4 linked regions of the Homo sapiens genome follow. The protein of the gene in region 1 purifies or fractionates together with the protein of each later gene. This does not show direct contact. Each region holds a gene or a part of one and is shown on either strand. Other genes may lie near its edges. The genes, in order: PCDHB16, PDZD8, POMT2 and MTHFR.

Region 1 (6,984 bases):
CGACCACTCTCCAGTATTTCTGGACAAACAAATGTTGGTGAAAGTATCAGAGAGCAGTCCTCCTGGGACTGCGTTTCCTCTGAAGAATGCTGAAGACTTAGATATAGGCCAAAACAATATTGAGAACTATATAATCAGCCCCAACTCCTATTTTCGGGTCCTCACCCGCAAACGCAGTGATGGCAGGAAATACCCAGAGCTGGTGCTGGACAAAGCGCTGGACCGAGAGGAAGAAGCTGAGCTCAGGTTAACACTCACAGCACTGGATGGTGGCTCTCCGCCCAGATCTGGCACTGCTCAGGTCTACATTGAAGTTGTCGATGTCAATGATAATGCCCCTGAATTTGAGCAGCCTTTCTATAGGGTGCAGATCTCTGAGGACAGTCCAATAAGCTTCCTGGTTGTGAAGGTCTCTGCCACGGATGTAGACACAGGAGTCAACGGAGAGATTTCCTATTCACTTTTCCAAGCTTCAGATGAGATAAGCAAAACTTTTAAGGTCGATTTCTTGACAGGAGAAATTCGACTAAAGAAACAACTTGATTTCGAAAAATTTCAGTCCTATGAAGTCAATATCGAGGCGAGAGATGCTGGAGGCTTTTCTGGAAAATGCACCGTTCTGATTCAAGTGATAGATGTGAACGACCATGCCCCAGAAGTTACCATGTCTGCATTTACCAGCCCAATACCTGAGAATGCGCCTGAAACTGTGGTTGCACTTTTCAGTGTTTCAGACCTTGATTCAGGAGAAAATGGGAAAATAAGTTGCTCCATTCAGGAGGATCTACCCTTCCTCCTGAAATCTTCTGTGGGGAACTTTTACACCCTACTAACAGAGACACCACTAGACAGAGAAAGCAGAGCCGAGTACAACGTCACTATCACCGTCACTGACTTAGGGACACCCAGGCTGACAACACATCTCAATATGACCGTGCTGGTGTCGGACGTCAATGACAACGCCCCCGCCTTCACCCAAACCTCCTACACCCTGTTCGTCCGCGAGAACAACAGCCCCGCCCTGCACATCGGCAGCGTCAGCGCCACAGACAGAGACTCGGGCACCAACGCCCAGGTCACCTACTCGCTGCTGCCGCCCCAGGATCCGCACCTGCCCCTCGCCTCCCTGGTCTCCATCAACACAGACAACGGCCACCTGTTCGCCCTCAGGTCGCTGGACTACGAGGCCCTGCAGGCGTTCGAGTTCCGGGTGGGCGCTTCAGACCGCGGCTCCCCGGCTTTGAGCAGCGAGGCGCTGGTGCGCGTGCTGGTGCTGGACGCCAACGACAACTCGCCCTTCGTGCTGTACCCGCTGCAGAATGGCTCCGCGCCCTGCACCGAGCTGGTGCCCCGGGCGGCCGAGCCGGGCTACCTGGTGACCAAGGTGGTGGCGGTGGACGGCGACTCGGGCCAGAACGCCTGGCTGTCGTACCAGCTGCTCAAGGCCACGGAGCCCGGGCTGTTCGGTGTGTGGGCGCACAATGGCGAGGTGCGCACCGCCAGGCTGCTGAGCGAGCGCGACGCGGCCAAGCAGAGGCTGGTGGTGCTGGTCAAGGACAATGGCGAGCCTCCGTGCTCGGCCACCGCCACGCTGCACGTGCTCCTGGTGGACGGCTTCTCCCAGCCCTACCTGCCGCTTCCGGAGGCTGCCCCAGCCCAGGGCCAGGCCGACTCTCTCACCGTCTACCTGGTGGTGGCGTTGGCCTCGGTGTCTTCGCTCTTCCTCTTCTCGGTGCTCCTGTTCGTGGCGGTGCTGCTGTGTAGGAGGAGCAGGGCGGCCTCGGTGGGTCGCTGCTCAGTGCCTGAGGGCCCCTTTCCAGGGCATCTGGTGGACGTGAGGGGCACCGGGAGCCTGTCTCAGAACTATCAGTACGAGGTGTGCCTGGCAGGAGGCTCAGGGACGAATGAGTTCCAGCTCCTGAAACCAGTATTACCTAATATTCAGGGCCATTCTTTTGGGCCAGAAATGGAACAAAACTCTAACTTTAGGAATGGCTTTGGTTTCAGCCTTCAGTTAAAGTAATTGATTTCATATTATATATTTTAATTTTTATGATCAATTCAAAGGAATGGTTTTCTGTCAACTTAGCATAAATTTTAAATTACACTACATTTGCCCATAGTATTTGTCTTGTTTTCACTGTTTTAAAAAATGATATCTCATCTTCTCTTCATTAGTATATCCAGTGGACTCTAATCATAATTCTTTAACAGTGCAATTTTTGTTAAAATGTACATAGTAAAATGCACAGATCTGAAGTGAAGAAATTAATGTAACTGATCTTTTTAAGCCTTTATTTTTTGATTTCTAATCTAGGTAAAATTTAGTTAAAAGTGGTGTAGAGAATGTTTTACATTTATTGCCTTTTAAATGTTTCCCCAAGTCCTAAGGGAGTTGACATATTATCCCCTTTTTTAAATATGAGAAAACTGAGGCTTAGAAAGGTAACTTGGCTGTGAGCTGTGGCTCACACCTGTAATCATAACACTTTGAGAGGCTGAGGCAAGCTGAACCCTTTGAGCTCAGTAGTTCGAGACCAGCCTGGGCAATGGGGCAAAACACTGACACTAACAAAAATACAAAAATTAGCCAGGTGTGATTGCGAACCTGTAGTCCCAGCTACTCAGGAGGCTGAGGTAAGAGGATCCCCTGAGCCCAGGAGACAGAGACTACAGTGAGCCAAGATTGTGCCATTGCACTCCAGGCTGGGTGACAGAGTGAGACCTCATTCCCCCCCACAAAAAACGATTAACTTTCTTATAATTCTGAAATAATAAAGGTAAAAATTTAAAATATAATCTAAGTCTAGCCAATATGCTATATGGTCAGGCATTAACTGATAGCATTGTTTTTCTAACTAAGGAAGTGAAATTTATGTTATTCCTACTCCTACTCCATGAACTAAACTCTCATGTGAAAATATAAGTTTTAGTTTATAGTTTGTTTATACTACTCTGCACAAATATACCCATGTTCTTATCAAAGCTCTAAGTATGCTGGGACAGATACTACAAATGAACTTTATGATGAGCGAATTAACCTGATTTATAGTCCTGTACTTTCTCTACGTGCCATATCCATTATTAAAGAAATGAGTCTAAGTAGGAAGTAGAGTTAACCTATAGTTTCATTTCTTGAATTTCTTATTCTCTTTCTTCAGTCTTTTTCAGTTAACCTACACACACACACACACACACACACACACACACACACACACACATATGTTTATAAGTGGGATGGGAGAACGGGTACGGTGATAATTAAAAGAGGTAAGGTTTCTCTTGAGATGAAAATGTTCTAAAATTGTGATGGCGGATGCACACCTCTGAATATATTAAAAGCCATTGAAATGAAAAAAGGGTGGGGGGAATCCAAAAGTGTAGCAGACCCAACCTTGAGATTTGCTTGTTTGGGAATGAATTTTCCAATAACTTGAAAGTTGTAAAAACTCACACTTCTCAGGGTTAGGTGTCAGAAAGAAAAGGAAGTAATTTATTCTTTAATAAAGCAATTGTTAAATACTCTTTAGAACTACCACTGATTGCAATTTTGCAGTGTCTACTCATAGTGTCTATATAGGTACCATGAAAAAGATGTACTTGTGAAACTGTTCTCATGTTACTTCAGAAAAATTTTGCTTCTAAGTGTGTATTCTATGTCTGGTTAAATGTTCATTGAATTTTATTTAATCATTAATCTCAACAGCATTAAACAGTCAATAACATAAATGACAGTCTTCTCTTTGTACTCCTCCCTGTACAACATCACAGAGCTCCATCTGTATACACGAAAGTCACATGAAAATAGAACTCAGTGTTTTGTATTACATAGTCTATTCAGTACATTTAGAAGTATTTTGCCTCCAATATTCAACCACAGTAAAAGACTCAGTGAGAACGCGTGGTGGCGCTGCAGGTTAAGATGACGGAAAATACAACTGCCTACGCAGCTCCAGGATCCAGCAAACCGTTTCCCAAAGCCTGGAAGCAGAAGAATAGCTGAGCCAGAGCGAACGTGAGTGTGAAACCTCTTTAAGACACCGTTGGGCTGCTTGGTTCTGACATTCTGGACTGCAAAACAGTTCTACTAGGATCCTGGGGATACATGAAGCTTCTGTGAACCAACTTTTCAAGAAAAAGCAATGGAGATTGGATGGATGCACAATCGGAGACAAAGGCAAGTCCTTGTTTTCTTTGTTTTGCTGAGCTTGTCTGGGGCGGGCGCCGAGTTGGGGTCCTATTCCGTAGTGGAAGAAACGGAGAGAGGCTCTTTTGTGGCAAATCTAGGAAAAGACCTGGGGTTGGGGTTGACAGAGATGTCCACCCGCAAGGCCAGGATCATTTCCCAGGGGAACAAACAGCATTTGCAGCTCAAGGCTCAAACTGGGGATTTGCTCATAAATGAGAAGCTAGATCGAGAGGAGCTATGCGGTCCCACTGAGCCTTGCATACTACATTTCCAAGTGTTAATGGAAAACCCTTTAGAAATATTTCAGGCTGAACTGAGGGTGATAGATATAAATGACCATTCTCCCATGTTCACTGAAAAGGAAATGATTCTAAAAATACCGGAAAACAGTCCTCTAGGAACTGAGTTCCCTCTGAATCATGCTTTGGACTTGGACGTAGGAAGCAATAATGTTCAAAACTATAAAATCAGCCCAAGCTCTCATTTCCGGGTTCTAATCCATGAATTCAGAGATGGCAGGAAATACCCTGAGCTAGTGTTGGATAAAGAGCTGGATCGGGAGGAGGAGCCTCAACTAAGATTAACCCTGACAGCGCTGGATGGTGGCTCTCCACCGCGATCTGGAACTGCTCAGGTCCGTATTGAAGTGGTGGACATCAATGATAACGCTCCTGAGTTTGAGCAGCCCATCTACAAAGTGCAGATTCCAGAGAACAGTCCTCTTGGCTCCCTGGTTGCCACCGTCTCCGCCAGGGATTTAGACGGCGGAGCCAATGGAAAAATATCATACACACTCTTTCAGCCTTCGGAGGATATTAGTAAAACTTTGGAGGTAAATCCTATGACAGGGGAAGTTCGACTGAGAAAGCAAGTAGATTTCGAAATGGTTACGTCTTATGAAGTGCGCATCAAAGCCACAGATGGGGGAGGTCTTTCAGGAAAGTGCACTCTTCTCCTGCAGGTGGTGGACGTGAATGACAATCCCCCACAGGTGACCATGTCTGCACTCACCAGCCCCATCCCAGAGAACTCGCCTGAGATAGTAGTTGCTGTTTTCAGCGTTTCAGATCCTGACTCCGGAAACAATGGGAAGACGATTTCCTCCATCCAGGAAGACCTTCCCTTTCTTCTAAAACCTTCAGTCAAGAACTTTTACACCTTGGTAACGGAGAGAGCACTCGACAGAGAAGCAAGAGCTGAATATAATATCACCCTCACCGTCACAGATATGGGGACTCCAAGGCTGAAAACGGAGCACAACATAACAGTGCAGATATCAGATGTCAATGATAACGCCCCCACTTTCACCCAAACCTCCTACACCCTGTTCGTCCGCGAGAACAACAGCCCCGCCCTGCACATCGGCAGCGTCAGCGCCACAGACAGAGACTCGGGCACCAACGCCCAGGTCACCTACTCGCTGCTGCCGCCCCAAGACCCGCACCTGCCCCTCGCCTCCCTGGTCTCCATCAACGCGGACAACGGCCACCTGTTCGCCCTCAGGTCGCTGGACTACGAGGCCCTGCAGGCTTTCGAGTTCCGCGTGGGCGCCACAGACCGCGGCTCCCCCGCGCTGAGCAGAGAGGCGCTGGTGCGCGTGCTGGTGCTGGACGCCAACGACAACTCGCCCTTCGTGCTGTACCCGCTGCAGAACGGCTCCGCGCCCTGCACTGAGCTGGTGCCCCGGGCGGCCGAGCCGGGCTACCTGGTGACCAAGGTGGTGGCGGTGGACGGCGACTCGGGCCAGAATGCCTGGCTGTCGTACCAGCTGCTCAAGGCCACGGAGCCCGGGCTGTTCGGTGTGTGGGCGCACAATGGCGAGGTGCGCACCGCCAGGCTGCTGAGCGAGCGCGACGCAGCCAAGCAGAGGCTGGTGGTGCTGGTCAAGGACAATGGCGAGCCTCCGCGCTCGGCCACCGCCACGCTGCACGTGCTCCTGGTGGACGGCTTCTCCCAGCCCTTCCTGCCGCTCCCAGAGGCGGCCCCCGGCCAGACCCAGGCCAACTCGCTCACTGTCTACCTGGTGGTGGCGTTGGCCTCGGTGTCGTCGCTCTTCCTCTTTTCGGTGCTCCTGTTCGTGGCGGTGCGGCTGTGCAGGAGGAGCAGGGCGGCCTCGGTGGGCCGCTGCTCGATGCCTGAGGGCCCCTTTCCAGGGCGTCTGGTGGACGTAAGCGGCACCGGGACCCTGTCCCAGAGCTACCAATACGAGGTGTGTCTGACAGGAGGCTCAGAAACAAGTGAGTTCAAGTTCCTGAAGCCGATTATCCCCAACTTCTCTCCTTAGGGCACTAGGAAAGAAATAGATTAAAATTCCACCCTTCACAATAGCTTTGGATTTAATTATTGATAGGAACCCATTTGATAAATTCCTTAACTTCTTATGATTGTCTTGTTGATTAAATTGTTCATGCTCACCACCACCAATAAGGTATTTTTCTCTGATTGTTAGTTCAAATTATATTGTTAATTCCAGTTTCCCTTTTCCTCATATTTACCCCGAAGAGGTGTTGCATATAGAATCCCAATTAACAAAATATACTTTATCTTCAAAGTTGATGTCATTTAAAATTTTTCCGTCTTTATATTTTATTTACTTCCTATTCATTTTTTGCTCCATTTTTCATGTTACTTCTCAGTTTCCTAGAACTTCAAGTATTAAAATAACCTGTTGCATGTATTAGGCATATTTCCTATGTTACATTTCTTTTGTCTATTTTCCTTTCAAAATTGGTATTTTTGTTGGGCTCAATTTTCATTATAATACTTTTCTTAAAGTTTCTTTCTTTCTTTTCTTT
Region 2 (7,695 bases), on another chromosome or scaffold:
TTATGGGACATGGAAGAAGATGCTGGTAATGGAGAAAAAATGGATAAATGTGGTAGTGGAGAAAAATGTCTGGGTTTCCTTGAGGGCCTTAATAAGAACGAAGACCATAAATTTATAATGTAGAGGGGAGGAGGTAGATAGTTGGATTCATTTAGGGTTGAGGTTTTGCAGGTGGAGATGGAAGGAAAAGTGTTAATGCCATTCTCTAGCTTAAAGACCTTTGAAGACTTCACAAAAACTGCAAAATAGAATAAAAACTTGCCCTGACATTTAATCTCTCCATAATTTAGTTTGTGTCTACTTTATTATGCTACCTCCATCTCCCTTCTCTCCTTGATGCACCAACCTATTCGTACTACCTTCTTCCAGTCATCCTGGTCTCAATTTCCCCAAACTGGCGGGTTTCCATCTTCTGAGTTTTTGTCTCCTTCTGATTAGAATGCCCTTCTAATCATTAAATGCCAATGCAAATTCCATTTGCCCCAAAAGCCTCCCACCTTCCCCAGCAAGAATTAATCTCTTATCCCCTATTGAGCTAGTATTGCCCATCATGTCTTCTCAATCCTCTCCCAGTCCTTGAAGAAGTTGCCCCACCCACCAGCAGCCCAGAAGAGGCAAGCTCCTTGGTCATAAATTATTGGAGTAGCACAGCCAATTGGAGATTTCTCTCCCAGGATTTGAGATTGAGCTTGCAGGCTACCTTAGCCATCAGAGACATAGGACCCTCTAGATCTGGATAGAGAGCTGGTGCCTCCCAAAGTGCCTGTGTGCTGAGGGTAATGGGGAAGTAGAAACCAAGAGCCTTCTGGAGTAAAATGGCACAGACCTGCAGGGAGATGCAGAAATAAGATACTGGGTAGGGGTGGGGGCAGAGGAAATGAGAGTGAGAGACAGTTTTCTTACTCTAGGATTTCTATGAACATCTTGCAGCTGAGTTCCTGGAGATATTCCAGCATCCTTAACGTGAATCCAATTTTAGTTGTAAGTTAGCCTGAGGTAGTTGCTGTTCCTTGCAATCAATTGTCACTGCCCCTGAACCAGAAGGCTCTGCTCCCATAGTACCTTGCATGTGCCTCTATTAGAGCACTATCTCCTATCATCAGAGTTATGCAGATGTGTGTCTGCTTCCACCTGGGGCGCAGCGCCCCTGTTCATTCAGTATCCCTGGAGCCTAGTACTTGTTGGATGCTCAAAAAATAGTTGTGGAATTTGAATTCTCCCAGTTCACAAAATGGTTTGTTGATGTATCATTTGTTAGGCAAACCTTATAAACTCTATGTTTCCCACCATATTTCACTATATTTGCATTATTTTACATCTTTCAAAAAATCAAATTTGCTTTCATGCTACTCACAAACTTTGCACATTTACGTGGTTTGGCTTTCTCATTATTTTTCGCGGTCACCAGGAATGATTCATAGTCAAGCAGTGGTCCATGCATCCCTCTAGTTGGTGAGAATGTCTTATATGCAACCCATCTTCCAGTATTCAACTGACTTCGACCTTGAAATGGATATTTCCATGAAGGCTGTTGGGGCAGCTTAATTTCAATGATGTCATTTAAAACACATTAAAAAGTCAGCAGGGAGGCTAAGCACAACTGCTTCCTTTAAAAACCTATTCAGAATCATCGATCTTCAGAGCTGGGGCCAGTGGTTCTCAGGCTTTTGAGTTTCTATGAACCAGCATTAATATAAGAAAAAAAGGGAGGGGTTGCTGAATTTATCCTTTTCCAGAAAATAGCATTAAAACAAATTCGTCTCTATTAACATAGTATAATTTCATAAAATAAAGGGCATGCTAACACCAATATTATCCAGAGCATTATCTCCTAACTTATCAAACACAGTCAAGTGTGGCTTAACAACAGACATAAGTTGTGAATCTTTAGGCAGTTTCATCATTGTGCGAACATCAGAGTGTCCTTACACAAACCTAGATGGGAAACCCTACTACATACCTGGGCCATATTGTATAGCCTATTGTTCCTAGGCTACAAATCTATACAGCACGTTGCTGTACTGAATACTGTAGGCAACCATAACACAATGGTATCTGTGTATCAAAACATCTCTAAACACAGAAATGGCATAGTAAAAATACGGTACTATAATCCTATGGGGCCACCATCCTATAGGCAGTCTGTCGTTAACAAGAACATCCTTCTATGGTGCATGACTGCATATTTGACTTTACAAAAACTCATGATATTTTGATTTCTAAATAATGTTTGAAATATTTAAATATTTCTAAATAACATGCTTAACACTGTGCTTGGCACATGGTCAGTTCTCTGTATTATTATTATTAGTGTTTAATCAATGTTGGTCATGTTTCACACAAGGGAGAATACTTTTTTCTTCCCAAAAGGTTTGCTGAGCTCTTTCATGGATTTGAAGTGTGTCCCTAAGGGGTCAAGTTTTGCTGGGGAATGCAATGACTCTGACTCTGTAAAACAAACTGAGAAGATTTAAGATTCTCACAGGTATTCTGAGGAGCGCAGAAGTGAGAGGAGAAGAGAAAAGAAAGGAGTCTGCAAGATGAAGACTGAGGACTCATTCCCATGAAGACCACAAACTTTCATTGTTGAGGAGGGAGGTGGGTGAAGAATATTTTGCAACTCGGGATGGATCAATATACAGTTTGAGGGTTTTATATTTCAGGAATGTGAATAACTTCTTTCATGCCACCCTACTTCCAGCTTCTGTAACATTTATAATATGCAATGTGCATGAATGTTATGAATAGGTTTACGGTGGAAATCATAGAAGGGTCTACATTTCTCATTTGAGTTGAAACAGTGTAGATCCCAGAGAGCAGCCCAGAAGCAGAGGCCAGGAACCAAAGGGGACCAGAGAACAGAAGTTGCCAAGATCTCCGAAAAATCTCGGCCATGGTTTGAGCATGGTTCCTCAGCAGACACCTATCTTATGTCTTCATAGTAATGAAAGCCATTCTGGTTTCGTATCTGGGCATGATTCGGTAAGGCATGATAAGCCTGGTTCCGAAGTTCTGTACCTGTCCCAGCTGGGTCAGGTCTATTTTTGTGGTAGAATCACCTACAGTTAAGAGAATCCTTGGCTTGGAGGTTTTCTTCTTTTTTTTTTGAGACAGGGTCTTGCACTGTCGCCCAGGCTGGGGTGCAATGGCGTGATCTTGGCTCACTGCAACCCCCGCCTACCGGGTTCAAGTGATTCTCCTGCCTCAGCCTCCTGAGTAGCTGGGACTACAGGCGCGCACCACCACGACCGGTTAATTTTTGTATTTTTAGTATAGACGGGTTTCACCATGTTGGCCAGGCTGGTCTCGATCTCTTGACCTCGTGATCTGCCCGCCTCGGCCTCCCAAAGTGCTGGGATTACAGGCGTGAGCCACCACGCCCGGCCGGCTTGAAGGTTTTCAAGGGCTAGAGAGGAGCCCTGCCCTGGCTCCTTAGGTACAGCCAGAATCGGCCTTTAAGGTATGGGATATCTGACTCCTGCAGGACTGGAACTCCACGTGCTTGGAGGGATAAGCATTTATGATGTAACCACTAAGTAGTCAGAGGGCAGGAGGAGTAACGCTGTTGCTGGGCAACCTGGCTTAGCTTCGTGGCTTTGGTTAAGGTGCTACTCTATGCAAAATTCCTTGCCGTCTTCCCTAATCCGCCTCCCCAATTCTCCCTTCCTGAACATTAGGGAACCCACTGGCCTGCTTACAACTGAAGCAGTTTCTGTGTTAGGGCAGAGAGTAGTGATCAAGACATTAGGGTTTAGTGTTAGATAAACCAGGCTCCACTCTGCGGCCCCACGCAACCTCCCCACGCTCTCTGCACCAGTGTTGGCATCTGTCAAGTGGGTGGGGGCTAACAGTGAATAACTGCCTCATAGATGGACTACCGGCTTAACCAGAGACTGACAGCGGGTCGCATATTAATCTTCCAATCACTTGGCAAACTCGTTTCACTATGCATCTCTCCTCCTGGCTGTTCTTTCAACTTCCTCCTCCCTGAAATTTCGAAGATCCACCTCGGTGGGAAAGTCATTCCGCGTGGCGCGCCCTTTCCCTGCGTCCCTCCTTCCCAGGGCCCACCCTCCGCGGACGCAGAGCGTCTGCCGGGGGGACGGCAGGTCCGCGATGGCTGCCTCTGAGGCAGTCGGTCCCCTCTCGCCGTGGGCTTGGGAAGCGTCCGAAAGGCCCGCTCGGATCGTCTGCGGTGCTGCCCGCAGGGAAAGCGCCGCTGCCAGCCGGGCTGTCACGGGTGCGAGTGGAAGAAGCACACCGCAGGATGAGCGACGCCGCTGCAGAGGTAACCGCGGGGACTGCGGCCAGAGACGGGGGATGGGCGCAGCCGAGGATAACGGGATGGCCGGCATCCGGAACGCGTCAGGCCCGCTCCGCCGGACCGCCTTATCCTCCAGCCCGCGTCCCCAGCCGTCCTCCCAGATCCCGACCGCAGCTCCAGAAGTGACGGCCACGTGGGTGGCGGCGCGCGCCGCGGGGATTGGAATGTTGGCGTGGGGGGACGAGGTTGGAAGGGCCGCAGAGAAGTAAAGGAGGACCCGCGTCCGCGTGCCCGGGCGCCGACTGCTGGGCGACGCCGCCGGGAGCGAGCACGCCTCTGACGTCACGCGCTGCTCGTCCAATGAGTGGAGGCCTGAGGGAGGCGCCGGTCCCGGCCCCGCTGCCGCCGCCGCCACACCGGCCCTTCGGGAGCGTCTGAGGAGGCGCGGGCCGCTGCGGGCTCGGGCGCCGCAGCGCGCCGGCCCGAGCCCCTGGACGAGGCCCACGGAGCCGCTCGCCCCGACCCAGCCGCCCGATGTCCTCAAAATGGAGGCAGCGGGGGCGGCGGCGTGAAGAAAGCGGCGCTGTGGGCGCGGGAGTAGGGGCCCGGGCGGAGGCGGTGGCGGGATGGGGCTGCTGCTCATGATCCTGGCGTCGGCCGTGCTGGGTTCCTTCCTCACGCTCCTCGCCCAGTTCTTCCTGCTGTACCGCAGACAGCCCGAGCCGCCGGCGGACGAGGCCGCCCGCGCGGGCGAGGGCTTCCGCTACATCAAGCCAGTGCCGGGCCTGCTCCTAAGGGAGTACCTTTATGGCGGCGGCCGGGATGAGGAGCCCTCCGGAGCGGCCCCTGAGGGCGGCGCGACCCCCACCGCGGCCCCCGAGACCCCCGCCCCGCCGACGCGGGAGACTTGCTACTTCCTCAACGCCACCATCCTATTCCTGTTCCGGGAGTTGCGGGACACCGCGCTGACCCGCCGCTGGGTCACCAAGAAGATCAAGGTGGAGTTCGAGGAGCTGCTGCAGACCAAGACGGCCGGGCGCCTGCTGGAGGGGCTGAGCCTGCGGGACGTGTTCCTGGGCGAGACGGTGCCCTTCATCAAGACCATCCGGCTCGTGCGGCCAGTCGTGCCCTCGGCCACCGGGGAGCCCGATGGCCCTGAAGGGGAGGCGCTGCCCGCCGCCTGCCCCGAGGAGCTGGCCTTCGAGGCGGAGGTGGAGTACAACGGGGGCTTCCACCTGGCCATCGACGTGGACCTGGTCTTCGGCAAGTCCGCCTACTTGTTTGTCAAGCTGTCCCGCGTGGTGGGAAGGCTGCGCTTGGTCTTTACGCGCGTGCCCTTCACCCACTGGTTCTTCTCCTTCGTGGAAGACCCGCTGATCGACTTCGAGGTGCGCTCCCAGTTTGAAGGGCGGCCCATGCCCCAGCTCACCTCCATCATCGTCAACCAGCTCAAGAAGATCATCAAGCGCAAGCACACCCTACCGAATTACAAGATCAGGTGAGCTGGAGGTCGGGGAGGGGGCCTGGCTGCCGGGAACCCGGGCCTGGGCGGGACGCTGCGTGGATTGGGAAGGGCAAAGGCTCATTTCTGTCCTGGCGCCTGCTTCTGGGGCCTTCCCACCCTGGACAGGGCCCCAGATCAAGGCGAGTCGTGAACACTTGCTTTGCTTCCGAACGGCATTGATAGGAGCTAGAAACCTTTTCGCGTGTTCATGGGGACTCAGGGTGCTGTCAACGCGGGCAGAATCGTCTCCTTTTATAAGCAGCATATTGGAAATGGAAGGGAAGCCTACCCTAATCCCCAGGAGTCGCTTCTGGGACTGTTGAGAAACTCTCCCTCTATGTGGTTGCTGCATTGAGGGCAGCCGCGTCACTGGCTTTGCAGCATCCCCTTGGCCGCTTTGAGAAATTGTTCCTGGACACAGTACACGCGTGAAGAGTGTGCTTATAGCCCAGGTCTGTGCTAATTTGACATTGCAAGCCACTTTTGCTTTGATGGTTTGACACCTTTCAAGGCAGAGGTGGTAACTCTTGCAAAGGAATACTTTTGTGGGTTTTTTTTGTTTTTGTTTTTGAGACAGAGTCTTGCTGTGTCGCCCAGGCTGGAGTACAGTGGCGCGATCTCGGCTTACTGCAACCTCTGCCTCCCAGGTTCGAGCGATTCTCCTGCCTCAGCCTCCCAGGTAGCTGGGGTTACAGGCGTATGGCACCACGCCTTGCTGATTTTTTTTTTTTTTTTTTTTTTTTTTGTATTTTTTAGTAGAGACGGAGTTTCACCGTATTGGCCAGGCTGGTTTCGAACTCCTGACCTCAAGTAATCCGCCTGCCTCGGCCTCCCAAAGTGTTAGGATTACAGGAGTGAACCACCGCGCCCGGCCCGGGAATACTTTCCACAGCAGATGGGAAAGGAGTTGGGAGCCTGTACATAGTGTACTTTACATTTTGTATTAATGTCATTTGCCCATTTTGGGTAGATTGTAGAACACAGATCCAGACTCTGCCCATCAAGCATTTACTCTCTGTGACTGTAAGTTCTTCTCTCAAGGGACCTGAAGTCACTGTACAAATTGTATTTTAATGCTAGGTAGTGATTTTAATTTTGTTTAAGCCTTCCAGCATCTGATGGCTTAAATTTTGTGGTATACAGTTTTGAGTAGTATATAAATTTTGTTTTAATATTGTAGGAGTGGAAGGGGAAAGACTTTTTTAGGGCTAGAGGTGGAGTGGAAGGTGCTTTTTCTTTTGTAAAAAGCTGAATTTTTAACTTCTCTTTCGGTCCTCCTTTAATTTTGTATTCACTAAGACATTTGAGCCTTTAAAATTTTGCCCTTTATTATAAAATTATGTCAGTCTTGTATTTTACTTACCTAATTTTACTTGCCTTTTAGTGGAAGTTGCCTATTTCTGGATCACTAATTTTCTACCAGTGTCAATTTTCAGGAGCAAGATAATCCAGAAATATTTTGGGTTTGGAATGGATTATTGACTTCTGTATGTGGCAGATGTACCTTACCAATTATGTTTTGTTTAGGCTAACAGCGCAGAGTGACAGTTTAAAACTTGCGTGGCAGGAGAAATTTACTTTGTAATGGAAATATTTCCATAGATTTGCGGAGGGTGGTGAACTGGTTGTTCACTGTGTTCGATTTCTGGTTCTGTGAAGTAGAACATACTTTATGAAACCTACTTTTAACCTCTGGAATATCAGTGATTAAATTATAACTCGGTTCTAGTGTTTAAGCAGTGAGAGATGTTTATTTATAGCAGTGTGTTGCCAAAAAAGTCATGAGAAAAAGTTGCTAGAAATTTTGGTATTCTATCACAACTTCAATTATGATGTTTTCTGATAGCTTTCAGTTAATACAATTTGACTAGATTATTATTTTGAAATTTGTAGACTAGCCAATGACAGTGAGATTACATATCATTTT
Region 3 (7,032 bases), on another chromosome or scaffold:
ATGTTCTGGCACCAGGCCATTCCAACAAGACAATCTAGTGACTGAACTAGAATTAAGTCTGAATTACATAGATAGCCTCCTCCTCCCAGCTGATCTGGGCTTTCTGTAAGGGGGAAGAAAGATGAATCATGGCCAGAAATGGTCAGGGGAGAATCTCACATTTTCAAAATAGGTTTATATAACCCTCCACCCCTTTTTCCTGATCATTACCCAGTTGGTAGGCAAAAGGAGATGACCCATTTCTGAGAATGGCTGCCTTAGGTGACCAAACTGCTTCAGTAAGGTTTGCAGACCAGGAGGAGGTTAAAAACATAGAATCAAAAATCTTTTTGAGTTGATCTTTGAGGGAACTGTTCAGTACTTGACAATGTCATGCCTGTGGATGGTAGGGAGTGTGGGAGGTCCATCGAATACCTTGGCTATTGACTGTTGACACTGTTGGGTGGCCATTGCGACAAAAAGATATGCCAGTGTCAGACTGTAGATGGTTTGGAAAGCAGAAAACCTGGCAGTTTAGTTTCAAGGGCCACAGTGGTATACACAGAGTCAGATAATTGGACTGGAAAAGCAACATCAGCACTGTAAACTGAAAAAGTATCAGCAGTAGCAAGGTACTGATGAGAGCCTAGAGAAGGGAACAAAGTCCTAATGTCAATCTCCCAGGAGCAGGTGTGGTCAGTGCCCCTTGCAATGTGGCTTCCTTTACTGCAAGACAAGCAGGCCAACTTTTGGCAGGAGTCACAAGTCTGGCACGCAGTGGTGGCTTCTGCCTCAGAAACATGTAGTCCCTTACGTTGTGCCTAGCCCATGATGGTAGATGTTTCCACACCGGTTGCATGAATCCAGGTGGCTATGGCAGCAGTCTTGGTGGTGCAGGCTGGATCAGCAGTTTGATTCCAGTCAGTCTTACGAGAGTACCTGCCCTTAGTGTGGGCACCTACGTGAGTGATCCAGTCTGTCCTATTGGCAGGCAGCCATGATGTGTTTCCACACTTCTCAGCTTTCATCTCTCAGTATTTAGTCTTCCAAGTGGCATACCAAATGCTTCAATCCTTACTGCCATCAGCCATCCAGAGTTATCATTGGGGCTAAGTGCCTGCTGCTGCTTGGTGGGCAACATCAGCTTTTAACTCAGCCTAATCATTGGTGAGCCAGGCCTAAGCATTTACAGGAACCCCTGTGAATCAAGGGCCCTACTGAACAGCAGCTCGGCTTCAGGTAGCAGAGAAGGTTGTTTCTCCCAGAGTGGGAGCTGCCACTTCTTCACGTAAAACCAAGATGCCTCTAGGGCCAGGCTAGCTATACTCTTTTTTTTTTTTTTTTTTTTTTTTAGAGATGAGATCTGACTCTGTTGCCCAGTCTGGAGTGGAGTGGTACAATCATAGCTCACTGCATCCTCAAACTCCTGGGCTCCTCCTGTCTCAGCCTCCTGAGTAGCTGGCACTACAGGCACGTGCCACCATGTCCAGCTAATTAAAACAGATTTTTTAAGAGCTGAGTTCTCACTATCCTGCCAAGGCTGGTCTTGAACTCCTGACCTCAAGCCATCCTCCTGCCTCAGCCTCCTGAATAGCTGGGATTACCAGCTGTACTCTTGAATGTACTATTTCCATAGGATCAGTGAGGCTTGTTAAACCCTTCCCTTGTTATCAGTAGATTCCCATTGACCCACCCCAAAGTGGGAATACTAGGCCAGGGAGTCCTGAGGCCTTTATGGGTCTGGCAATCAATTTCAAAGTGTTGAGTAGTTAACTAAGGAGTTAATAGCTGTCCTTTTAAAAAGGGTGTGCTTGGTACCTATGTCCAGCAGGTGGCACTGTGATTCTGGTGCATGGCTCTCAGTACTCCAGCAGCCACAAAGTTGTTTTTTGTTTGTTTGTTTTTGTTTTTTGAGATTCTCGCTCTGTCGCCCAGGCTGGAGTGCAGTGGCGCAATTTCAGCTCACTGCAACCTCTGCCTCCTGGCTTCAAGCAATTCTCTGCCTTAGCCTCCCGAGTAGCTGGGATTACAGGCGCCCCTATCACGCCTGGCTACCTTTTTGTATTTTTAGTAGAGACAGGGTTTCACCATGTTGGCCAGGCTGGTCTCAAACTCCTGACCTCAGGTGATCCGCCCGCCTCGGCCTCCCAAAGGGTTGGGATTACAGGCATGAGCCACTGCACCCAGCCGCCACGAAGTTTTTAAGCCTGTGATTTATTTCCTTTCCCTTCCAGGGATGTAGATTTTTTTCTTCTGGACCACCAGGAGAGGACAGGATCACCTGTCTACACACAGCAGCCCTTGCCCAGGATAATCCTCTTCGACACTTATGGGATCAGTATCAGCTATACATTCAGCACTGGAAGCCACAGGAATAGTACATTGAAGAGGCCCAAAGAGCTCTGCCTGGAATGTCACTTTAACTTCCCTTCCCTACAGGGAGCGTGGCTCAAACATTACCAGTTTAATCTGGACACTTTTTCCCCTCGAACTAATGCGTCTAGAAGGCCTGCATCAGGGGCTATGGTGACAGCCAGCCAGAGATTTTGCCATTTCCCAGTCGGAGAGTGTGGCGGTGCTGGCTGCAGGGAGTGGGGAGAAGCTTTTTCTGCTCCTTTAGCTCTTCACTAGGCTTGCATCACGACCTCCCCAGTGTCGCTCCCTCAGGGTTAGGGGCCCTTTTCCCTTTAGTCCTTGTGCGCACTGCTATGGCTGTCCCTGCAGTCCTGAGTGTCTGCAGTAACCTCTGTGTGTAGTACATCCTTCCCCCCATGAGACATGGTAGGGTGGAGATGTGGGACCTCATATCCAGCAGAGCCCTGAGTTTGCCCCTCTCCTCCCTGGGGCTCTCCAGCATACTAGGATGGGTGTGTATGACCTTCAGTCCCCTTTAGGGACATGGAAACCTCAGCCCAACCTTTAATCATCTCAGTCTTTAATGCAGCTGAGGTTGTGGTAGAGTGGGAGGGATCCTGGGACATAAAGGGAGAGAGTGGCTCCGAGCCACAAAGCAAGTCATATTTATATTTACTTTTGGCTTGAGTACACAGCTCCCCCAAGGATCTTTCAGTGTTTCATTTTACTCAAAGTTCTATCTTATATAGCAGGGTCCTATTGCCGCACCGTTGGAGACTTGTTGATTGAGCAGCCATATCCATATTGCCTTTTGGCAGGGGCTGCTGGGCTTGCTGCCATTGTCATGATCACTCCTCTTCCTCCTTTTGCCCAGAGGACAGGGCAGTAACCAGGGTGACATTCAGTGGCTTGTTTCAATCCTACCTCTTTCCATCAGCCTCTCTAATAGTGGGACAGTGGGGGACTCTCACTACCCCATTGCCTGCCCATGGAGGCCCTCATTCTTTCTCTTACCAAAGACTATGTCTCTCCTCATCCTATGCTTGTCTCCACACTGTCAGGGGCTGTGATTTTATCTTAGCCTACTTATTAGCTAATAAGTTAGCCTGTCACTGTTTTTTGCATGCTGACAGAAGACAAAGTCTTGGGTCAGAGACAGAGGACTTTATTTCTCATGGCACAGCAAGTGGGATGTGCATCAGCATGTTGGCATCAGTTTCCTTTGCCCCTAAGTCCCACGTGGTGCTGAGGGACTGGATGAATGCTTGCACATGCAGTAGCTTGCATCACAGCTGAGTAATATTAAGCTTAGGGAATCTGCTGTTTTATGGCAAGCAATAAACAAGACAGCCCTCTGTCTCAGAGGGAGACACTAACTTCCCTCAAGGTTGTTTACTGCAAACAGCATTCTTGGCATACCTTGCAAGGCCTGGAGGAGCACAAGAGAGCCACGGAGGACTGTCTCTCCTAACACAAGCAATAAAAGCCAGGAGGAAATATGAATGTTACAACTGGTTTTACTTGGGAAACTTTTGAAGTAAAAATCTGGAGCCCAGGCTGGGTGCGGTGGTTCACACCTATAACCCCAGCACTTTGGGGGGCTGAGGCAGGTGGATCACCTGAGGTTTGGAGTTTCGAGACCAGCCTGGCCAACATGGTGAAACCCCATCTCTACTAAAAATACAAAAATTAGCCAGGTGTGGTGGCGGCCGCCTGTAGTCCTAGCTACTTGGAAGGCTGAGGCAGGAGAATCGCTTGAACCCGGGAGGTGAAAAGTGCAGTGAGCCAAGATTGTGTCCATGTACTCCAGCCTGGGCAACAAGAGTGAAACTCTGTCTCAAAAAACAAGCAAAAACAAAACAAAACAAAACAAAACAAAAAAACTGGAATCCTTTTGTTAGTATGTTCCCAAACAGATTTAAAAACTAACCACAAATGTCAGGACAGTTTAAGGAGGGCCCAGCAGGGATGGTACTTTATAATCTACAGAATTCTTTCACATGTGTTATCTGAGTTGAGCCCTAAGGCCTCCCTGGGAGGTGGGCAGGGCAGATAATATTATTGTCTTCATTTTGTAGATGAGATAAGAGGACTAGAGAGAATAAGTGATTTTGGCGGGTTGTGCCATTAATTAGTGGTGGAGCTGGGACTGGATCTCTCTTTCTGCAAATCAGTTTCATTACCCTGCTTTGAAGTTATTTCTGTCTTCGACCTCACCATGCCAATGTCCTCACTGCCTGTCAAGGTGTTTAGCAGATGCTGAAATAGACCTATTCTTTTGCCTATCTTGGACCCACCAAGTAAGATATAAAAAGAACCTTAGATTCTTAGGTAAAGCATGTTTTCCCCTTATGTAGTAGGTCAATAATGACTGCTCATGACCTGGGGATTGATGACTACTAGAAAGTAACCCTTCTTTTGAGCTACAGGGAGAAAATTACAAATAGAAAAGGCCAGGCTCTGCTGGATGACTTGGCTGCGTTCCCAAAGCCCTCATGTATGGTGTAGAAAGGTGTATGTGGTTGTATAAAAGAGGACTTTGCATTGTGTTTGAAAGCCTGTTTATTCAAATCACTTATTTACTTGCAAAATAACTTAAGCAATGAGGATAGGTTTTAGATGTGGTCTTAATTTAGTAAGAAAGCCTTCAACTTTTATATACTAGTTAGTATAAGATCAGCCAGATCACAGTTAGCAGCTTACTTGTCACAGGGTGGCTGAGCAAAATGAGACTCCTGTGACACTCATGGTTTATAGACTCAACTCTGACCAGCAGCCCAACAGCGTCGTAATGGACCTTCTAATAGCAAATGTTGTCTCAGAAGTTAGCAGACTTGGAAGAAACTTTTTTTAATTTAAATTTTTGTTTACACTAGCTACTTGAAGATAGGAAGAAAACTTTTTTTTTTTTTGAGACGGAGTCTCACTCTGTCGCCTAGGCTGGAGTGCAGTGGCGCGATCTCGGCTCACTGCAAGCTCTGCCTCCCGGGTTCACGCCTCAGCCTCCCTAGTAGCTGGGATTACAGGCACGTGCCACCATGCCTGGCTAATTTTTTGTATTTTTAGTAGAGACAGGGTTTTACCATGTTAGCCAGGATGGTCTCCATCTCCTGACTTCGTGATCCGCCTGCCTCGGCCTCCCAAAGTGCTGGGATTACAGGTGTGAGCCACCGTACCCGGCCAGAAGAAAACTCTTACTACAAACCTTTCCATATTATGAGAAAACATCTTGTCCTTTTAAAATAAATAGAAACTCAAGATACAGAGTAAGTATATGTATATTTAACTCAATTGGTAACTGGCTAGTGAATATTTGCTCGCCTTTCTCATCTATCTAAATGAAGACCAGTGGCCAGCTTGATGTCTTTCTTCCTAAAATCACTTGTGTCAAAATATTTTTTTTTTAAATCCAGACTTTTGCATTAATTGTTTGAAATGCATAGCCTTTAATTTTAACCATGCTTTATGAAGGCCATTTGGATTTTATGATAATTTTAAAATTCTTGTTTCTCTTTCTGTGTTTCCTTTAGTTGGGATGAGACTCACTTTGGAAAAATGGGAAGTTACTATATCAACCGTACATTTTTCTTTGATGTGCACCCGCCCCTGGGAAAGGTGAGCAGTGTGGTGAATAGCAGCTCTCTGGTCCCAGAGGATTGTTCCTAAGGGCTGGAGCCACATCTTGATTTTGGATTTGGGGCTTCTAGAAAGAATTTGGGACTTGTAGAAAGAATTTTCTGACATTTCAGACCAGCTACTTTCATGGAAAATCTCTGGTGTTTTTTAAGGGTCCTCTGGGCTCAGAAATGGAAAGAGGGCCCATCAGCTGAGGGAGGGATGAACAAAGTGTGGCACAGCCATATGGTGGAATAATATTTGGTCATAAAAAGGGATGAGGTTCTGATACATGCTACAACATGGATGAACCTGGAAAACATGCTAAATGGAAGAAGCCAGACACAAAAGGTTACATACCCTGTGATTCCACTTATATGAAATATCTAGAACTGACAAATCCGCAGAGACACAAAGTAGATTAGTGGTTGCCAGGATCTCAGGGCAGGGAGGATTAGGCAGTGACTGCAAATGGGTGTGGGGATTCTTTATGGGGTGATGACATGTTACAGAATTAGGTAGTGGTGATGATTGCACAATCTTGTGAATATACTTAAAACCACCCATTGCACACTTTAAAATGGTGGATGTTATGTTATGTGAATTTGTCTGAATTTTAAAAAAGAAAAAAGAAATAGGAATACATTGCATGAAGCAGAAATAGCTTACGAGGCTGATATCCATATGGGGCTGACTTCTTTCTCCCTTCCCATGCCCAGCATACACATGGTTTGATCTGTTTCTCTCACATGTTTTACCATTAGAAATTCAACCAATTAGAATTCACTTTACTCTTTTTTTGTTTGTTTGTTTTTGAGACAGAGTTTCACTCTTGCCACCCAGGCTGGACTGCAATGGTACAATCTTGGCTCACTGCAACTTCTGCTTCCCAAGTTTAAGTGATTCTCTTGCTTCAGCCTCCCAAGTAGCTGGGATTACAGGCGCCCGCCACCACGCTGGCTAATTTTTGTATTTTCAGTAGAGACGGGGTTTCACCATGTTGGCCAGGCTGGTCTTGAACTCCCAACCTCAGGTGGTCCACCCGCCTTGGCCTCCCAAAGTGTTGGGATTACAGGCAAGCCA
Region 4 (3,774 bases), on another chromosome or scaffold:
CGCAAACTGATGGACCGGGTGGGCCTGGCCTGAGCTGGGGCCACAAATCAAAGCAAGGGCTCCAGCATCCAGCCTGTGTGTTCTGTAATGGAACTGACCCCCTCCCCTGAAAACGAAGGGGCCCCGGGGCTGGCAAGCAGGGAAAGCTCCACGGTGCGTGGCTGTGGCACAGACTTCTGGAAGGCTGGCTGAGTGGAATGCAGGGAAGAGGGCAGTACCTGGGAAAGGACCCACCCATCTTCCTGCTGCTGTAACTGCTGAGCCACTCGCAGTCGCAGGATCCGCTGCCACCACGTCTGCCAGGCCCATCTCAGGTGCCACTCCCTGAGCTTTGGGGACAGTTGGCAGAGAAGGCCTCTTGTGCTCACGCTCCCCCGCAGTCCCCAGCCCTTCTGCCTTTCTCCCCCGACACTGCTGCACCAGAGTGAAAGGGCTATGGCAAGGGGGTGTCATCTGAGGAGTATTAAGAATGCAGATTCCTGGGCCTGTCCCCCAAGGTTTTGGAGTCAGTAGGTCCAAGGGCCATACTTTTGAGAGGGGTTTGGGTTAAGTATGAGGTGAAATGGGAGATGGTCAGTGTGGAGAGGGGTGCACCCACTCACCAGGGTCCGCACCAGCTGCTCTGCCCCTTGGGCATCCACCCAGTGCTGCCATGCCACTGCCAGGCACCTGGCCTGCTGGGAACCCCGCAGCCCGTGAAGCAGTGCCTCGAGGCACCGGCGCTGCAGGTACTTCCTCCTGATGGCCAAGAGCATCGTGACCCTTCAGGGCCAGAAGGAGGGCAGAGCCATGGGCCTGGGCCTGCTTTTCCAGGATCCTGCAGGAACGAGCACTGGCCAGAGAGGGCCCAGCTGTAGCCATGGCTCAGGCAAGCCCCTCAGCCCTTGCCCCCATCCCTCGGACCCACCAAACTGCACACACAGCTCCTCTTACCGTAGCCTCCGTTTATGGGCCTTGCTTTGGGCTTTGCAGGCTCTGGGCTCAGGGCTGGAGTGCGCTCTTGGTCCCTGGTCCCTCGTCCACAGGGGCAGGCCTGGGACCCAGCTACTCTGTCCAGGCCACTGTGGCCAGAGCTGGAAGGCAGGGCAGAGGGAATGTTCCCTGCACCCTGGAAAGGGGAGTTGAGTCACAAGAGGTTAAGGTGGGTCCAGGAAGGCAGCTGCTCTTAGTGCCCGCCTAGGAGTTGAGTACAGTGAGGAGGGTGGAGGAAGGTGCTGAGCTTAGCCTTGTGCCCTGCCCCCATCTCCCCAGGCCTCCAGCCTCTCCCGGCTGCCTGCCGCCCAAAGAGAAATCACAGGGGCGGGGCAGGAATGCAAAGTGTTTTCTCAGAACAGCTGAAACATTCCGAAGAGGGAATGGATGGGGAGAATGGTCAATACACATAAGACCGTGTCCCAAGGAGCTGATTTCCAGGCCCCTGAGGACTGGAGACCGCTTCACCCCTGCACTTCAGACACCGTTTGTCCCCCGGGGCAAGGTCTCCTTACTCTGAGCCCAGGCCGTTCCCCTTGGCTTCCTCCGTCCACCCAGGCTGCACTGCAGTGATGGCGCGGGAGGCACCAGCTCTGTGGCCTGTGTCCAGCAGCTGCGGGTCTGAAGGAATAGCCAGAGAGGAGCACCTGAACCCCATGGGCTTGGACTTCCTGGGGCCCCGCTGGGATTTCTTCGCTGCTCTAGCTGGCAGGACACATCCCGGCCTCTTCCACCCATTCCCCCATGTGGCTGAAGACATTCCAACAATGGGGTGGGCCCATAATAGTTAGCCCTCAGTCAGTTCCCGGAGCACAGCCCTGGGAGGGGGCTATTTCTCTCCCCACTGAAAACATTTCAAAGCTGAGTTACTTGTCTGAGGCCTCATCCCTCGGAAGCCGTCTGACTCCAGAGTCTGAGCCCCCGGCTAGTACCCTATAGAGAGGGGGCTCTCCAAAGGGGCTGCTGGGGCATGTGTGCCTGTGGCAGAAAAGAGGAGACCCTGGAATTCAGCACCCTGGGTGCCATTCCCAGCGTTTAGTTTCTAGAGGCCTCAGTTTCTCCATCAGCTTATGGGATCCTTGTCTTTACTGACAAGAATGGAATAGAAATGTAAAAGTACTCTGAAAAGCAATTGCCCTGTAACTTATCTAGAAAGAAAAGACCCTGAGACTCCAGAATCTGCTGTTGCCATAGCCCCATATGTGTGAATTCTGCAACTAGCCAAGGCTAGTTCCTTTCAATTCCATTTAAAAAACAAAAACCAGCAGGTGTGGTGGCTCATGGCGTAATGGGCCTGCCCAATGCTTTGGGAGGCCAAGGCAGGTAGATCGCTTGAGCCCAGGAGTTTGAGACAAGCCCTGGCAACATAGTGAGATCCCATTTCTACAAAAAAAAAAAAAAAAAAATTAGCCGGGTGTGGTGGCACACGCCTGTAGTCTCAGCTACTCAGGTGGCTGAGGTGGGAGGATCGTTTGAGCCCTGGAGGTTGAGGCTGCAGTGAGCTGTGATCGCACCACTGCACTCTGGCCTGGGCGACAGAGTGAGACACTGTCTGAGAACAAAAAACGACTGAAAAAAAAAATCACCTTAGCTTTTTCTCTTAGAATCTTCTCTAAAACGTATTCTTTGTGGCATTCTGAAATAGGATTCATGATGATGCCTGTTGATCTTAGGGACACTACCTCACCTGCCAGTATCTTTGGGGCTGTGTCCTTCAAGGACATGTCCCCAGACTGCTGTGCAGTGTCATTTTTTGTGTTTGGTTTGGTGGTGGCTTCTTCCCCCTTGCTAGGCTATCAACCTCTTATCACCACTTGTTGGTGTCAGAACTAACTGCTTCTGGTCTGGAGAGGGACTGACCGATGCCTTTGGGTAGAGAGAATTATGAAAGAAATTTTGGTATTTTTCTACTTTATATTTTCTGAGGTTTCTGTAATAAGCATATTTCACTTTTCCAATAAGAAAAAAAAAAACTTGGCCTGGCGCGGTGGCTCACACCTGTAATCCCAGCACTTTGGGAAGTCGAGGTGGGAGGATCACTTGAGTTCAGGAGTTCGAGACCAGCTTGGGCAATATGGTGAAACCCCGTCTCTACTAAAAATACAAAAATTAGCCAGGCGTGGTGGCGTGCACTTGTAGTCCCAGCTACTCAGGAAGCTGAGGCGGGAGAATCACTTGAACCCGGGAGGCAGAGGTTGCAGTGAGCTGAGATCACTCCTCTGCTTCAGCCTGGGCAATTGAGCCAGACTCTGTCTCAAAAATAAACAAAAAAACTTGACAAAAAAATGCTACTGTCCTCGTGTACCTATTCTGATCCTCAACTGCACCGTGAGAAAGCATGCATTTCAATGTCTCCCTAACAGGCTGTGACCCAACATGCTGGTCTTTGCGGCCGGACCTGCAGTGGCCTGGCACTCGAGAGGTGCCAGGTTCATCTTTGCTGATGGATTCAGAGTTGCTTGTCAGAGGCTGACTGAGAACTGGGGAGAGGTGGTGCATACGAGGTTGCTGGGCCCCTGGGGAGGCATCCAGCCATGCTGCCACCACCGGCTGAATCAAGCTGATTCTAAGGCCGGTGGTCCGAGGGTCATTTTTGGACCTCCCGCCCTGCCTAGGCTCCCTTCACCTGTTTCCAAGGGGCTGGGGCGTCCAGCAGCAGGCTCCCCCTGCTGGCCATCCGGGGCCAGAGCGTGAGGTCAGTCTGGGGCTTGGGGCGTACCTTGCCGGCCCCTGGCAGTCCCAGCCGCACCCTGAGCTGCACTGTCCGCAGGAAGCGCCTGAGCTCAGCCGGCCGGAGCTGGG

What was found.
Region 2: the proteins of PCDHB16 (region 1) and PDZD8 purify together in Homo sapiens (affinity purification with mass spectrometry; 2 studies listed by BioGRID and IntAct, with this or other methods). This does not show direct contact.
Region 3: the proteins of PCDHB16 (region 1) and POMT2 purify together in Homo sapiens (affinity purification with mass spectrometry; 2 studies listed by BioGRID and IntAct, with this or other methods). This does not show direct contact.
Region 4: the proteins of PCDHB16 (region 1) and MTHFR purify together in Homo sapiens (affinity purification with mass spectrometry; 2 studies listed by BioGRID and IntAct, with this or other methods). This does not show direct contact.

Annotation. Positions count from the first base shown.
Region 1 is NC_000005.10:141,178,418-141,185,401, forward strand, and holds the start of PCDHB16 (protocadherin beta-16 precursor), read left to right. Parts: upstream 1-3,969; 5' UTR 3,970-4,142; coding exon 4,143-6,473; 3' UTR 6,474-6,984. Other genes in the region: PCDHB8 (protocadherin beta-8 precursor), read left to right, coding at 1-2,023. UniProt on the Homo sapiens protein: Potential calcium-dependent cell-adhesion protein. May be involved in the establishment and maintenance of specific neuronal connections in the brain.
Region 2 is NC_000010.11:117,372,423-117,380,117, reverse strand, and holds the start of PDZD8 (PDZ domain-containing protein 8), read left to right. Parts: upstream 1-4,677; 5' UTR 4,678-4,890; coding exon 4,891-5,762; intron 5,763-7,695. UniProt on the Homo sapiens protein: Molecular tethering protein that connects endoplasmic reticulum and mitochondria membranes. PDZD8-dependent endoplasmic reticulum-mitochondria membrane tethering is essential for endoplasmic reticulum-mitochondria Ca(2+) transfer.
Region 3 is NC_000014.9:77,310,866-77,317,897, reverse strand, and holds part of POMT2 (protein O-mannosyl-transferase 2), read left to right. Parts: intron 1-5,864; coding exon 5,865-5,949; intron 5,950-7,032. UniProt on the Homo sapiens protein: Transfers mannosyl residues to the hydroxyl group of serine or threonine residues. Coexpression of both POMT1 and POMT2 is necessary for enzyme activity, expression of either POMT1 or POMT2 alone is insufficient.
Region 4 is NC_000001.11:11,785,207-11,788,980, reverse strand, and holds the end of MTHFR (methylenetetrahydrofolate reductase (NADPH)), read left to right. Parts: coding exon of another isoform or gene 1-329; 3' UTR 330-602; coding exon of another isoform or gene 603-832; 3' UTR 833-933; coding exon of another isoform or gene 934-1,108; 3' UTR 1,109-1,487; coding exon of another isoform or gene 1,488-1,593; 3' UTR 1,594-3,258; downstream 3,259-3,774. Other genes in the region: uncharacterized protein C1orf167, read right to left, coding at 1-329, 603-832, 934-1,108, 1,488-1,593, 3,692-3,774. UniProt on the Homo sapiens protein: Catalyzes the conversion of 5,10-methylenetetrahydrofolate to 5-methyltetrahydrofolate, a cosubstrate for homocysteine remethylation to methionine. Represents a key regulatory connection between the folate and methionine cycles.